Linked DNA regions of Homo sapiens: region 2 is linked to region 1. A link means that fine-mapping ties the variant in region 1 to the expression of a gene that starts in the linked region. Tissue or cell type: whole blood. Region 1 holds a variant in brackets; the other region holds the start of a gene. All regions are shown on one strand. Distances are between the middles of the regions.

The links. PIP is the estimated chance that this variant, and not a neighbour inherited with it, causes the effect.
Region 2: ACE starts here. The variant in region 1 is fine-mapped to the expression of ACE in whole blood (TOPMed, PIP above 0.99). The same link has a PIP of 0.9 or more in blood mononuclear cells.

Annotation. Positions count from the first base shown.
Region 1 is chr17:63,606,027-63,614,283 of GRCh38, forward strand. TACO1 (translational activator of cytochrome c oxidase I) reads left to right here. Exons shown (of 5, transcript NM_016360.4): 3 at 287-414; 4 at 1,261-1,438; 5 at 1,776-2,339. The coding sequence ends at 1,976. It also overlaps the pseudogene FAM136DP. Among named protein-coding and RNA genes, the nearest start is that of TACO1, 9.3 kb to the left of the region's middle. RefSeq lists enhancers at 4,580-5,080, 5,081-5,581. The variant T/A (reference allele first, on the strand shown) is at 4,319.
Region 2 is chr17:63,473,557-63,481,556 of GRCh38, forward strand. It overlaps ACE (angiotensin I converting enzyme), which reads left to right and starts at 3,505. Exons shown (of 25, transcript NM_000789.4): 1 at 3,505-3,787; 2 at 4,375-4,542; 3 at 5,451-5,544; 4 at 6,213-6,356; 5 at 6,781-6,972; 6 at 7,535-7,632. The coding sequence starts at 3,539. RefSeq lists silencers at 3,765-3,854, 3,955-4,014.

The DNA of each region.
Region 1 (8,257 bases):
AGGGACTAGATGTGGCATTTGGTTAGGGATGGTAGGAAGCAAAGCTGAGAGATGGCTGATGGATTGTTCAGGGACCGGAGAAACAGACTCCTTCCAAGTTAGGGGTAGTACTTCCTGTTACCTCAAAAGTTGGTTAGAGGGTGGGGACAAAAATAAAGATTGAGAGCTCAGGCTCCAGCCTAGAGAGCCCATCCCATGGAGTTAGTTTTGCGATACTTGTAGTTCTGGGCTGACATGTGGGAAGGAATTGGGAAACAGGAAAATGTGCTTGTGTTGTTTATTGCAGAAATCCAAGGACACTTATTTGCTGTATGAGGGTCGAGGCCCTGGTGGCTCTTCTCTGCTCATCGAGGCATTATCTAACAGTAGCCACAAGTGCCAAGCAGACATTAGACATATCCTGAATAAGAATGGGTAAGTGTGCGTCTGGGAGGAGTGGTAGGGGACAGAGCCTTTATGTTCCAATTCTCTGCAAGGCAAGTACTGTTGATCTCTGCTAGTGTTTCAGGGTTTTGTTTTTTGTTTTTTTGTTTTTTGAGACGGAGTCTCACTCTTGTCGCCCAGGCTGGAGTGCAATGGCATGATCTTGGCTCACTGCAACCTCTGCTTTCTGGGTTCAAGTGATTCTCCTGCCTCAGCCTCCTGAGTAGCTGGGATTAAAGATACCCACAGCCATGCCCAGCTAATTTTTGTATTTTTAGTAGAGGTGACAGGGTTTCATCATGTTGGCCAGACTGGTCTCGAACTCCTGATCTCAGGTGATCCACCTGCCTCAGCCTCCCAAAGTGCTGGGAGCCACCATGCCTGGCCATGTTTCAGGTTTTAAGCACACTTGCTCCTTAGCAGAATCTAATGAGTTAATTGACTTTCCCTTAATGTAGTTTCTACTAGCAGGATCCCAAAGACTTGTTCATCGGATGTAGAAGGGGATCTTTGTCCTATTATCCCCATCTGTAGCCATATAATGCCTAAGTCTTAAAATGCTCCACCAGGACTGGCATCTTAATGGCACAGGAAATTATCAGCTAAGTCTGCTTCCTCCCAACTGCAATCAGGGCAGAAAATCGAGCGTGGGGACATTCTTGGGCTGTTCCCTTACCCAGCAGCAGCTGCATTTTCTCCTTGAGGATGCGATCTGCTCCATGTCTGTGTGTACTTCATAGACTGGGTAAGAAAGAGACAGTGATAGAATGATGAGCTTTATGGAGGCTGAGCTTCTAGAGGCATCCACTCATGCCAGCCTGTTTCCTTCCCTGTCAGAGGAGTGATGGCTGTAGGAGCTCGTCACTCTTTTGACAAAAAGGGGGTGATTGTGGTTGAAGTGGAGGACAGAGAGAAGAAGGCTGTGAACCTAGAGCGTGCCCTGGAGATGGCAATCGAAGCAGGAGCTGAGGATGTCAAGGAAACTGAAGATGAAGAAGAAAGGAACGTTTTTAAAGTAAGCATGAAAACATGGGTGTTTGGTGGGCTTCCGGGAGGACCCTGATAGATGCCTTATGCATGCCTCTTGGTTTCTTCCTTCATGTGCCCCAGGGTATAGGTGAGACAGTTCACATATTGTACAAACATTTATTAAGTGAATACTGAATAGGACCGACTCTAGTGAGGACTATGAGAAAGAAAGAGTCAAAACATTGAAAACGATGTCCCTGCCAGTGAAGAGCTCAAACCCAGTGATCCATTCCAGTACTGACATTCAGGACTTTGCAAGGTCCTGTGTGGCTTTGTCTCATTACCTCCTGGCTCCTCACCTCCTGACTTTCCTTTATCCCTAGTTTATTTGTGATGCCTCTTCACTGCACCAAGTGAGGAAGAAGCTGGACTCCCTGGGCCTGTGTTCTGTGTCCTGTGCACTAGAGTTCATCCCCAACTCAAAGGTGCAGCTGGCTGAGCCCGACCTGGAACAGGCCGCACATCTCATTCAGGCTCTCAGCAACCACGAGGATGTGATTCACGTCTATGATAACATTGAATAACCAGGCTACATGTGCCCCCGGGTTCCTTCCTAGAAATGTGGCAGCCCATTCCAGCACACAGGCTTCTGCAGCAATCTCTGAGGGTAAAGCCGGTGGGAGGCTCAGCAGGCCAGGAGGCCCAAGGACAGGACTTGCGACCTTGAAGCCAAAGGAATCTCACTTGTGGGGCCTCCTTGTCAGCTCTGCTGCTGTCTCAGAGCCATCTGGATGAGTGTCCCGACACCCTCTCGGATGCAGGGCAGGACCACCCAGCTGGTCAGACTCTGATGTTGGGTAGCTGGCCTCTGTGGGGATTGTAAGTGCCCTGAGGCGCTCTGTACTAGAAACTGCTCTTAATAATAACGGTGATTATTGGTTGCTGCATTGCTGTTGTATGGCTCTTGAGTCTTCCTGAGTTTGTGTCCAGCTGTTGGGATCCTCTGGACTAACTTTCAAGTCCCTAGGCTTAGCTCTACTACTCCAATCCCAGGATTATTTTTTTAATTGGCCATAGAAATGTAGTTGTATCCAGGCACTCCATGGTCTGATGCTGGTCTTACAGCCTAAACCTGTCATTCATTCATGCAACTAATATTTCTGGAACACTAGCTATATACCAAGAACTGTACTTATCTAGAGCATAAGCTATTCAACTGGTGTCCTGTGTTAGATCCTGCTCTAGAAGGTAGGACCTGAACACAGGACTGCTCTTTACTGGAGCTGTCCCAGGGCAGTGTGAGCTGCTGTGCAAGCATCTGTTGCTCTCTTTGTGTGACTTCTGTGCCCTTCTTTCACCAAACAGCTTAAGGTTCTAGCCCAGTAGGAAATCAAGTGCCAGTGATAAGGGACTTGGCAGTGGCTCACACCTATAATCCCATCTACTCGAGAGGCTGAGGCGGGAGGATCACTTGAGCCCAGGAGTCTAAGGCTACAGTGAGCTATGATTGCACCATTGCATTCCAGCTTGGGTGACAGAGTGAGAACTCTTCTTTTTTTTTTTTTTTTTTTTTTTTTTGAGGCAGAGTCTCACTCTGTTGCCCAGGCTGGAGAGCAGTGGCACAATCTCAGCTCATTGCAGCCTTGACCTCCTGGACTCAAGCAGTCCTTCCACCTCAGCCTCCCAAGTAGCTAGAACTACAGGTGCATGCCACCACGCCCAGCTAATTTATATATATTTTTGTAGAGATGGGGTTTCACTATGTTGTCCAGGTTGGTGTCGAGCTCCTGAGCTCAAGTGGTCTGCACACTCGGCCTCCCAAAGTGCTGGGATTACAGGCATGAGCCACCACGCCCGGCTGAGTCTGTCTCTTTTTTTTTTGAGACAGAGTCTTGCTCTGTGGCCCAGGCTGGAGTGCAGTAGCATGATCTTGGCTCACTGCAACCTCCACCTCCCAGGTTCAAGTGATTCTCCTCCTTCAGCCTCCCAAGTAGCTGGGATTACAAGCAGGCACCACCATGCCCGGCTAATTTTTTTGTGGAGGGGGAGGGGAGAAAATTAAACTTTATTTATTTTTAAAAGCAAACCACCGGGAAAATATAACACAGCCTGGAAGCAGCAAATGGACAGGCTATATTATCATTTCAAGTAGTAAGTTGATGAAAATACAATGAGGTTGCTATCAAAACAATAACGTGCCATGCCGGGGCAGGAACACTGCAAGTTGCGAAAGCCCCAGGCAAAAATGGTTTTTGGTACTGGGGTCTGCCTCTCCTTTGCTATAAGGGAGTCAGCTCATCCTAGCCCAAGTTGCTTACTTTTTCTTCCTTGGATTTCCTGTTGCCAGGGTTTGTCTCAATTGTGCTTTGTTAATTCAGGGGGCTAAGTAGGCAGTGCTAGGTTTAGGCTTTCATTCCATCCGTTCTATAAAAACCAGGTTTTTCCAAATCCAGTACTTCATAACTCTGTTATAATCAAGTAGCCAACTGCTCTTCTTTTACTGTTCATTTCTAGATACTAGTATATATCACAATCAAAACCCCCTTCTCTTCACCGGGAAAGTGTTACTGCAAGATTGTCCTGTCATTTTGCTACACACAGCCTCGGCCCATCAGCCAGTAATTATGCTTCCCATAATTAGTATGTCATCACCTCTCATGTTTTTGCATGGTCTCCAGGCTGAAAGATGCAGCATGTAATAATTTTAAGAAATCTACATCTACATCTTGATGACCAGAAATGGGGATCCTCAAGGAAACTTTCAAAGTTCTTATCCAAACTAGTCTCCCTCCCAATTCCACATCTTAAAATCAATTTGTATCGCCTTGTATAAATTACACAAAACCAAGAAAACAAAGACCCAGAAAACTTTTTTGCCCTTCTAAGCGGGTGACCTCATGGATTTTGTTTCACAGCTTACGGAAAA[T/A]GGTGTGGTGACACTTCTGGTAAACAGGATGTTGGCAACAAAGAGAAAATATCTCTCCTCAAACTCCACCAACTCTAACCTGCCAGCCTGTTGGTACCTGTGTAATAAGAAGAGTTTAGTGCCTTGGAGGGCTCTGGCTTGTTACAGGGGAGATCCTTACTGGCAGGACAAGCACTGGCCATAGGATATATAAGCTCTAAAACTCTCCTGTAATATCTCTGACCCAATTTAGCACCACTTTTTTCCATTTCATTTTTTAGGACTGAAACATAAAAGAACCAGTGTCCAGAGGCAAGTGACATATGTCTTACACTTGTGGCCATCCTTCATTTCTTCATAAACTTTGCTTAAAAGACTAAAATTCCCAATTCCTTATAAAAAATATATTCTTGCCCTCAGCCCCAGTGGCCACTGGCAAAGACTGTTATTTCCCAATGGATAAGAGAGCCTCCTTCATCTTCTTGGCCATAGTTGGGATGAGGTGCGTGTGGTCATCCACACACTTGGTCACACAACCGTCCAGCTGCTGCTTCACCTGAAGCTCCTTACTCCCAGTATCCATTGAATCTTTGGCTTTGTTGTTGCAATGCATGGCGCACCGGGCCAGGTGGTGCCGGAACTTCTCCAACTCACTGGTGAGCAAAGCCCGGGCTTGAGCCAGAGGCACATGGCAGTGCTTTGATGTACTGGTGCACCTACTGCATGGAGGCCTGGCTGTCCTCACAACAGCTGGTGCTGCACCGGAACATGAGACCCTGCATCTTCCAGATGTTCTCTCTCTCCAGACTCTTCACCATGGAGTCCACCACCTCCTGCACCCACAGCTGCTGCAGCTCTGCCATGGCGTCCCCATACCGCCCTGCACCGTGCCACCCCGGCTAATTTTTGTATCTTTAGTAGAGACCAGGTTTGGCCATGTTGGCCAGGCTGGTCTCGAACTCCTGACCTTAGGTGATCCGTCCATCTTGGCCTCCCAAAGTGCTGGGATTACAGGCATGAGCCATGGCGCCCAGCCTCTGTCTTTCAAAAAAAAAAAAAGGGACTTACTAGGGCCTGCTTTGCCTGGGTCCCTATGCATCCTGGGATTGGTCAGAGTGAACCAATGAGAAGACTGAGCTGCTCTCAAGAAGGGCTACCACAAGCTGGTTTTGAAAGCTTCTTGGTTCTGAGAACAACCAGCCCTAGATCCTTTTCATCTCTGATGCCAAATGATGTGGCACTGAGAACTGAAGAGGAAACGTGAACAGAAAGAAGAGTGAGGGCTGAATAAGAAGCCTCGCCAGTGGGAAATAGGGCCCTTGGTACCTTTTGCTCCTAATAGTCACATCTGTGTTTAGAAGGGCCAGGAACTCCCACCTCCTGCGTCAGAGCCTGTCAAGCATGTCAGGCCTAGAGTGGCTTTCTGATCCCTGTTATACACCTATTTATAAGTTATCTAAGCTAATTCTGAGCTCAGAGTAATTTTCCTGAAGGAGCTTCAGGTAAATAAGGATGACAAAGAACTAAAACCAAATTTACTGTAAATGATAACTTCAGCTTCTAAGAAAAGAATTACTGACTCCACACTGATGTCAATAGCTGGAGAGCAAGGGCTACGAGGAAGAAAACCAGTGAAATAATCCATGGTCATGCCACTTGCCCAAATATCTGAATTGCTTATCATTAAAAAAGAGCAAATTTACGTTTATATGTGGCTTCATAATTTGTAAGATACGTTTACATGTTATTTATTTGATTTTCCCAACAAACCTATAAAACACTTTGGCCAAGTATTTTATGCACAAATGATCTCATACCAAGCAGGAAAGAACAGGTCTTACACTGATAGACCTTGGTGTTTATAAAATAGCTCTGTTTTGGAAATTAATTTGGAGGAATCTTATTTATAATCTGAGAAATCTGTACTAAGGGAGTCTGCTCTTAAAGGGAACATGGCTAGTCATGTGAATAGATCTCTAATGTAGCATATAGAATCTTTATTAATATGGATTGTTGCATAACCAATTATCTTACATCAAGACATGCTTACTGTAAGGCACAGTAAAGGCTCCTGTGATGATGGCTCTGCACTGACCCCTAGTGGTGCCCTGCAGTCTCTCTCCTGCAGTTAATAGGAAAGGCAGAAATGAACCCTTCTTGAATTTGTTCTGCTGTCTCTAGATCTGGAAAAGAGACCCTGAGCTATTCAAATAAAGATGGTCACGGCCGGGTGCGGTGGCTCCCGCTTGTAATCCCAGCACTTTGGGAAGCCGAGGCGGGTGGATTACCTGAGGTCAGGAATTCGAGACTAGCCTGGCCAACATGGTGAAACCCCGTCTCTACTAAAAATACAAAAATTAGCCAGGCATGGTGGCAGGCGCCTGTAGTCCCAGCTACTCAGGAGGCTGAGGCAGGAGAATCACTTGAACCCGGGAGGTGGAGGTTGCAGTGAGCCGAGATCACACCATTGCACTCCAGCCTGGGGCACAAGAGCGAGACTCCGTCTCAAAAAAAAAACATTAAAGATGGTTACATCCATATGCCAAGGTATTATGTTGCCACTAAAAATTATTTTTTAAAGAATCTTTTGTCAGAGAAAATGTTTAGAATATAACATTAAGTGGGAAAAAAGATACAAAACTACATGTATAGTGTGGTCCAAATTTTGAAATAGATATGTATATATTTATTTAACATATTATATATATGAACTTTTTAAAAAAGACTAGAAGGAAATGTACTAAAATATCAAAACAGGTTATCTCAGGGTAGTGATGTTATTACTGAGCTTTATATTCTGTAATCATGTTTTCCTTTTTTCTTTCTTTCTTTTCTTTTCTTAAGAGATGGTGTCTTCCCGGCCGGGCGCGGTGGCTCACGCCTGTAATCCCAGCACTTTGGGAGGCCGATGTGTGTGGATCATAAGGTCAGGAGTTCGAGACCAGCCTGGCCAATGTGGTGAAACCCCGTCTCTACTAAAAATATAAAAATTGGCTGGGCGTGGTGGCGGGCGCCTGTAATCCCAGCTACTTGGGAAGCTGAGGCAGGAGAGTCATTTGAACCCAGGAGGCGGAAGTTGCAGTGAGCCAAGATCGCACCACTGCACTCCAGCCTGGGCGACAGAGCAAGACTCCGTCTCACCGAAAAAAGAAAAAAAAGAGAGAGAGAGAGATGGGGTCTTCCTGTGTAAGGCTGGTTTTGAATTCCTGGCTCCTAGGGATCCTCTTGCCTCAGCCTCCCAAAGTGCTGGGATTATAGGTGTGAGCCACTGTGCCCAGCCCCCATGTTTTACTTTTATCAGGTGACATAATTAAAAAAAAACCAAAAGCTAGTCTCACAGCATCTGAGAGTCTGGGAGTCAGATGCATGTTAAAGTCAGAGGAATGAGGTCCAGTGCTGGCTTGGCTTGCTTTGCCTTATCTTTGGTTATTGTCTTAGCAACATAAAATTATTCAAGGTCTTGAAGCCACCTTGGGCTTACCTTCAAGTGTCCTTTTAGTGGGACAGAAGTATCTGTGATAGGCTCTGTTCACAGTCTTGACTGTTATAAGAAGCACTCTTGTGCGTAGCCACCTCCCCTCTGCTAGAGGCCCTGGCTGAATCCAAGAGGAACAGCAAAGGCTGTGCCTCCAACCAACTGTGGAAATTCAGCCATGTGGTTGAGTTACTTTTTTTTCTCTGAAACTTATAGCAGTCAATAAATTTTCAAACTCGAAGAGCCCCCAATTCCCAGACTTATTTGAATCCCCAAAGACACTTCTGGAGACATTCTCTTCACAGAAAATAAGTCTGGCAAAAGGGAATGCGATGATAGATCCACAATACTCTTTTTCTTTTCCTTTTCCTTTCCTTTCTTTCTTTCTTTTCTTTTCTTTTTTTTGTGTGTGTGTGTGTGTAACAGGGTCTTTGTCAGCCAAGCTGGAGTGCAGTGGCACAACCATCGCTCACTGCAGCCTCAAC
Region 2 (8,000 bases), 130 kb before region 1:
ACAAAAGTTTTAAATTTTGATGAAGACCAATTTATCTGTTTTTTCTTTCATCACTTATGCTTTTGGTGTCATATCTAAGAAACCATTGACTAATCCAAGGTCACAAAGATTTATTGCCTATGTTTTCTTCTAAAAGTTTTATGATTTTAGTTCTTACATCAAGGTCTATTTTAAGTCTTTTGTTTTGTTTTTTGTTTTTTGTTTTGAGACAGGGTCTTACTCTGTCACCCAGGCTGGAGTGCAGAGGCACAATCATGGCTCACTGCAGCCTCAACCTCTTGGCCTCAAGCAATCCTCCCACTTCAGCCTCCCAAGTAGCTGGTATTATAGACATGCGCAACCATGCCCAGCTAATTTTTTTGTAGAGATAGGGTTTCACCATATTGCCCAGACTGGTCTCAAACTCCTAAGCTCCAGTGATCCGCCCACCTCAGCTTCCCAAAGTTCTGGGATTATAGGCATGAGCCACTGCACCCAGCCCCAAATTTTGTATATGGTATTAGAAAGGGGTCCAACTTCATTCTTTTACATGTGGAAATCCAATTGCCCCAGCACCATTTGTTAAAAATATTTTCTTTCCCATTTAATTGTCCTAGTGTTCTTGTCAAAAACAATTGAACATAATTGTATGGGTTCATTTCTGGACTCTCAATTCTATTCCATTGTTGAGCATATTTTTAAGGGCTGTTTTTCTCTCCTGTGGTAACTGGTGACCTGTACTTCCTGGAAGAGAGATGAAAAGATTCCCAAGCCAACTGAGTTACCTCACGTGGGTCAGGTCTCTGTGGCTCTCTGCACTGGCCTATTCATAATGATATCCTCCTGCAGGATTTGAGCCTTCTCCTTTGTTGTGACGGCAGCCGAGGAGGTGGCTGACTGCCCAGACAGCCTTATCTCTTTCCTACCTTTCAAGGTTATTGTAAATACCAAATTAGATTGTTTATACACAAGAATTTAGCACTAAAGCACTATACAAATGTAAGCTATTTATTTCTATTTATCCTTCTCCTTCATGAATAAGACCCTAAAAATAGAAGATATTTTTAATTTTTACTCACTGGGCTCAAGGTTGCAGTGTCTGTATTATTGCAAATTCCAAATTAATGAAGTCTGGCTCTTCTTATATTATTCCTGCAAAAGGCTGTGTGCTCACCCCCCGGAGTGTGAATACGAGTGTGGGTCATTTCCTCTTTCCTCTGCACCCTTCCTTCGATGAGGTTTTGCCCTGTGCTAGGCACCATGCTAAACTCTGAGAAAACCACAGAGAACAAGGCAGACGCCATCCCTGCCCTCCAGTAACATACAATTTAGTGATGAAGCTGGGGGATTTAACAAGCCATTCTAATAAAGCGTTACAGTGAGGGAGGTGCAGGGTGATGCCTCCAGCAGCCCTGGTGTCAGCTGCTCCAGGTCCAGGGGAAGACTTCCATTATCTTCCAACCCTGTCGGAAGTGGAGGCGGAGGCTGTTTATTGCTGACACAGTCCCTAACCCAGGGTCTATAGACATTGTGGAAATGCCTTGGAGTCAGACGGGAGAATGAACCAGCAGAAGCAATGCCCGCCCTCCACCCTCCTGAAGAGGGTTCTCAGGAACTCTTTGGAGGCGAGGCCAGCCTCTGGCTGAGGGCCTCTGGATACAGGTTAGGCCTCAGGCTCTTCTCCTCTCTACTCATCTCTCCTCCCTTGGCCCCTCCTTCAGAGGCTGACAGAGCCCCACTCTCATCTCTTCCCCACCCAAGCCTCTTTCCACAGAAAGACTGCTTCCTCCCAGGAGACAGCAGCTCATTTGCACACAGACACCCACAGCCCTCAAAGCCTGGAAGGCCAAGCTGTTAGGACCCCTGAGAGCAGGGTGGCTCCTGGGAGGAGAGCCCAGGCCACCACCTTGCCCTCCCTGGCCCCTGGCCTTCGATGGGGCTGCTCTGATCACAAACGTCCACCAACGTAGCCGGCCCAGAAGTGCACCCATGTCCTCTGGTATCCACTGGCTCTCCAAGCCAAACTGGGCAGGGAGGAGTTGTGAGGGAAAACTGCAGGTCAGGAGGGAGGCTGGCAAAGCGGGCCAGGGCCAGGCCTGACCCCAGCTCTCCTCTCCCGGCCCCACTGCCGGCCAGTGTTTAACAAGGCCCTGCCTTCTCCCTCTAGTGCTAGGGACAGCCACCTTCTTCCTCTCCCCACCGCCCCCTCTCCCCTGCAACACGTCATCTGACAAGTCAGTGCGATCTCACTGGAGGTGCATCTCACAGGAACGCGGGGTCACAGCCTCCTGCACACACTCCATGCTGCACAGCAAGGTGCACGTGTCCCTCAGAGCCCCAGACACCATCCCCCACTCACCCAGAAGCCCAAGTGATTCCCAACAGCCCCCAGCAGCCTAATGGGTTGGGGTCTTGGGAGCAGCTGTCCCTGGCTCCTTCCCTGATCCCACCGCCCAGCCTCACCCCACGGTTCCTCCATTGCCCCACCTCCCACTGCGCCGCCGGGCCTCTGCCAGGGTCAAGGGGCTTCCCCCCTCTGGCAGCAGACGCCATGGTGCCGAGGTGGCCTCCACAACCGCCCTGTGCGCCAATAGGACAAGACTGTCCTCCCTCCCCCACACTTGTCACTTTGAGGGACACGTGGATGAGACAGGAAAACACAGGGGAGTGTGGAGACCTGAGGTGACTTGGAGCAAGCCTCTCAACCTGAGCGGCAATTTCTTCATCTGTAAAATGAGGGGGTTGTTCTCATCTCTGAGGCTTTGTGTCGCTCTCAAAGCCTGCTAGCCTCGGGTTCTAGGACTCTGTTGGGATCGTGTGTGATGTTTTCTGCTGAGCGACTGGCAGCCTGTGTCCTCGGGGGGAAAGAGGGCAGGCGCTCCAAAGCTCCTGCGCTCTGTGGCTCCCCCTCCCTCGCAGCCCCAAGCCCCAGGTGTGCCGGCCGCCCTGAGCCCCTCCAGCACCTCCCGGAGGCGCCTGCAAGACACCTAAGGTCCCCGCCTCCCTCCTCTCCCCCCCGCCACACCCCTACCCCCGGCAGGCGACGTCCCCGCCCCTCGACCATGGCCTGGTGAAGAAGCCGGCCAGGCCCGATCAGCCCCATCCCCGCCGCACGAGCGGCGCCTGCGGACAGCTCCTGGGGCCCCGGCCTTGTCACTCCGGAGGCGGGAGGCTCCGGGGGGTCGGGCTGGGAAGATCGAGCCGGAGGCCGCTAGGCTCCCAGGCCCCGGCCGAGGCTGCGCGGCCGCACGGTGGGCAGGCTCGGGTGTTCCGGCAAACTGCCGGGTCCCCATCTTCTAAAGAGAGGAGGCCCTTTCTCCAGCTTCCTCTGCGGGAGCCCGACCCAGCCCCATCCCGCCACCCCCGGGCTGCACCTCGGCCCCTCCCCGGCCCGCGCCCCTGCCCGGGGCGGGCCAGGAACCTCGGCCCGCGCCGCTGGGGACTCTGGAGCGGAGGAGGAAGCGCGGCGGGGCGGGGGCGGGGGTGTGTCGGGTTTTATAACCCGCAGGGCGGCCGCGGCGCAGGAGAAGGGGCAGAGCCGAGCACCGCGCACCGCGTCATGGGGGCCGCCTCGGGCCGCCGGGGGCCGGGGCTGCTGCTGCCGCTGCCGCTGCTGTTGCTGCTGCCGCCGCAGCCCGCCCTGGCGTTGGACCCCGGGCTGCAGCCCGGCAACTTTTCTGCTGACGAGGCCGGGGCGCAGCTCTTCGCGCAGAGCTACAACTCCAGCGCCGAACAGGTGCTGTTCCAGAGCGTGGCCGCCAGCTGGGCGCACGACACCAACATCACCGCGGAGAATGCAAGGCGCCAGGTGGGCGCCCGGGCCCGGGCGGGGGCGGGGCGGGGCCGCGGCGGCCAATCACAGCACGCGGCCGGCTTGTGGGGCGGGCAGGCTGGCGCCCCCGACCCGAACCCCACCCCGACCCCGGACCCTCGCCCCGACAGTCAGCCGCGGGGCCCGAGCGCCGGGCTGCGCGCACGGCCTGCGCTCCCAGCATGCACGAGTTGGATGGATGAGGGTGGCTGCTCCCAGGCCGCGCCCGCCTTCGCCGAAGGTGCTGGGCTTGGCTCTGGGGCCCCCGCGCTCTCGGGCAGCTGCCTTCTCACCTCCGGACGCTGTCGCTGTCACCGTCACCGCACTGCACTGTCCATCCACCCTCCACTCGCCCGGCCTCTTTTCTGGTCCCAATTTCTGCTCCACCATTCCCATGAGGCAGATTCCCTCCAGAAGGAGGAAGCGCGGCTTCCGCAAACTAAGGTCTCCCGCAGGGATCTCCCCAGGGCCCGGGCTCTGGAAGCCCTTGGCCTTCCTCCCCTCCCCCAGCACCGTGGCTTCTCCTTTATGGCCTGCATCTAAGCAGGGTCCTACACCCTCCCTGCCCTCCTGGTGCCCAATAGGAGGAAGCAGCCCTGCTCAGCCAGGAGTTTGCGGAGGCCTGGGGCCAGAAGGCCAAGGAGCTGTATGAACCGATCTGGCAGAACTTCACGGACCCGCAGCTGCGCAGGATCATCGGAGCTGTGCGCACCCTGGGCTCTGCCAACCTGCCCCTGGCTAAGCGGCAGCAGGTGGGCTGAGGGCTGAGGCAGAGCTCGGGGGCGGCCTCCTAGTGCCCCATCGTGGGGGTCGGGGGAGAGCAGCCCATCAGGGAGGGAGGAACCCTGGGATCCACATGGGCCCTGACAGAAGGGAAAGCCCAGGTAAGCACAGAATGGCTTTCTGAGCATTGATTTTTCTTGGAGATGGGGTGGGGAGTTACTTTCTGTTAAAGGAAGCATTCTGGAGTAGGAAGCCAAATTCAAATACACTTCTCCCTAGGCTGGTTTATGAGCTTCTTTGGAAGAGTTGAGAAGGGCTGGGCGTGGTGGCTCAAGCCTGTAATCCCAGCACTTTGGGAGGCTGAGGTGGGCGCATCGCTTGAGCCCAGGAGTTCAAGACCAGCCTGGCCAACATGGCAAAACCTCGTCTCTACAAAAAAAAAATAGCTGGGCTTGGTGGTGCGTGCACCTACAGTCCCAGCTACTCTTGAAACTGAGGGGGAAGGATCACCTGAGCCCAGGAGGTCAAGGCTACAGTGAGCTGTGATTGCACTACTGCACCCCAGCCTGCGTGACAGAGTGAGACCTCCCCCCAAAAAAAAGAGAGAGAGAAAAGGTTGAGAAAGACTGGGAAGTCACCAAAGCCAGAGAATGGGAGGGATCTGCCCTCACTGCAGGGTGGTGCCAAGCTGGGACTTGACCCTGACCCTGACTTTCAGGACTCCTGTCCCCCACTCCACAGGCTGCCTCCACTGGCAGGGGACTCAGAAGTGATCCGGTCACACTAAGTGACACTTAGTGATCAGAAGTGCCCCGGTGCCACTGAGTGGCCTTGTCCAAGCTACATCCACTCTGTGGGCTCCTCCTTCTAGCAGCGAGGGGAGGGCAGATGTCCCAGGGGCTGGTCACTGGAGCATTCCTCCCCTCTGACTCCCCAGTACAACGCCCTGCTAAGCAACATGAGCAGGATCTACTCCACCGCCAAGGTCTGCCTCCCCAACAAGACTGCCACCTGCTGGTCCCTGGACCCAGGTACGGCCCTTGCAGCTCCCCTCTCGGCGGTGCCCTAGTGTTCCCACATTGCCCTGCTGCACTCCAGACCATGCAGTTGTGTAGGGTCTGTGGAGACAGCAGGTAAACCCAAAGGTGTTGCCCTCCAACTGGGGCTGGACGGTGCAGATACCCCCACGCCCTGCTTCTCTTGGCAAGTGGACTTCCGGAATCTCCAGCTGCAGCCCCCACTTCTGTGTGTACCTCGGCCTCTCCCATCACCCCTAGGCCTTCCTCCTGGCTGCCTGGTTTCCCCTTTCGTGGGTCCTCTCATGTTCCCCAAGAGCCCTCAGGCCAGGGACCCCTCGTGGCTTCCCCTTAAACCCCGCTCCAGCCCCCTTTATGAGCAGCTTCGAGGAAGGCACTCCATCCAATAGGCCGCTAAGTGTCTGTCTGGGTTTTGGCCTTTGGGTGTCCCCTTGGTGTCAGCCACCTTAGGTGGTCATGTCTCTGGGGCAGGGGCCCTGCCTGGGTGTTTCTGTAGCTCCCAGCCCCCTCCCACCAGGCCTGTAGGTGGCCCCTGTCTCTGGGGGCACCGTGATGTTCAGGAAGCTGGTGGGAGCAGTAAGGACTGGTGCAGGCTCTGGTGAAGGCCGTTGAAGACTTCAACGTGGAGGCCTCCTCACCGACCCTGCCTGCCTGTGTCTCAGATCTCACCAACATCCTGGCTTCCTCGCGAAGCTACGCCATGCTCCTGTTTGCCTGGGAGGGCTGGCACAACGCTGCGGGCATCCCGCTGAAACCGCTGTACGAGGATTTCACTGCCCTCAGCAATGAAGCCTACAAGCAGGACGGTGAGCAGGCCTCTCCCTGTCCAGGAACCACGCCAGGTGTCCTCTCTCAGCTGTCTCCCCAGAGTCCCAGCCCAGAGTCAGGCAGAGCAGCTGGTATGACAATTCCAGCAGGCCCTGAGTTTCCCAGAAAGTGGAGGTGGGACCGGCCTGCACCCAGTGTGCCTGGACTTTGCTGCTGGCCTGCCCCACGTGGCCATCCTGCTGTCACTCCTGGCCCTGATGCTCCTCTTTGCCTCTGGGAACCTCCAGGATCTGTTTAGCTGGCTGTAGCTAATTAGAAATTGTAGAGTGGCAACCCCCAAGCCAATTTTCCAGCTAGCTGCAGATCCACGGGCCTCGAGCCAGTGGAAGAGCCGACTTACAGCTGAGAGGCTGAGGTCCGAGCCTTTGGCCTGAGCTACATACCTCACCCCCACGCCCCCAGGCTTCACAGACACGGGGGCCTACTGGCGCTCCTGGTACAACTCCCCCACCTTCGAGGACGATCTGGAACACCTCTACCAACAGCTAGAGCCCCTCTACCTGAACCTCCATGCCTTCGTCCGCCGCGCACTGCATCGCCGATACGGAGACAGATACATCAACCTCAGGGGACCCATCCCTGCTCATCTGCTGGGTAAGGACCTGGCCTCGCCTCCACATGAGTCCCACGGAAGTGTGGGTCCCGAGGTAGGGGTGGGGGATGTCCAGGGTAAGGGAAGGTGGGTTGTGACCCTCACATCTCACATGTGTGGGGCATCATACTGTTTGCTTCACATGCAGGAGACCATTCGTGTTCCCACTTTACAGGTGGGGACCCTGAGGCTTAGGGTCGTGAGGGACTTAGTGGTCAGAGAGCTAGGGGCCAAACCAAAGGCTCTGGCCCTGGGTCCAGTGGGGGAGCCATCAGCCTAGCTCATGCCCAAGGAAACAAGCACTGTGGCCCTGCCTCAGGATTGAGTGGCTGGGGCCTGGCACAGCCAGAAATGACAGTGGCAGCATCTTGCAGCCCCAGGACATGTGGCCCTCGGAGGAGTGTGGGTGGGACTGATGTGTGAGATTTCTGGCCCTAAGCCAGGCCTGCAGCCCTTGAGGGCCCCAGGGTACAGGTGCCGGCCCCAGGGTGCCACTCAGCGATGCATGAAGAAGCAGGCACAGCCAGGCAGGGAGCCAAGCTGTCCCCTTCCTTCCTTATCTAGGAGACATGTGGGCCCAGAGCTGGGAAAACATCTACGACATGGTGGTGCCTTTCCCAGACAAGCCCAACCTCGATGTCACCAGTACTATGCTGCAGCAGGTAAGCTCTGGGCTCAAGCCTGGGGTGGTGGGGGTCGGGGGTGGGGCGCAAAAAAAGGGAGTCACAGATGGGCACAGGGGCGGGAAGGTTTCGGGTACTGAGCAGCAGCCTGGTGTGTCTGTAGGAGCAGTGAGCTGGGGTCGGCCCCCTCAGTGAGGTGCCAGCTCCTCCCTCCAGGCTCCACAGTGGCAGGATGAGAGCAACAACGCACTTTCACTCATCTGCTGTGGGAGTGAGGGCCCTGCCTCTGGGAATGGTGGCCACAGAGCAGAGAAGCTTTCATGCACAGGGAGTTGACCCGAGATGGGGACCCCAGCCCTGTCCCCAGGCCAGCCAGAGTGGGCTCCCCCTGACCTGGCTCCACACCC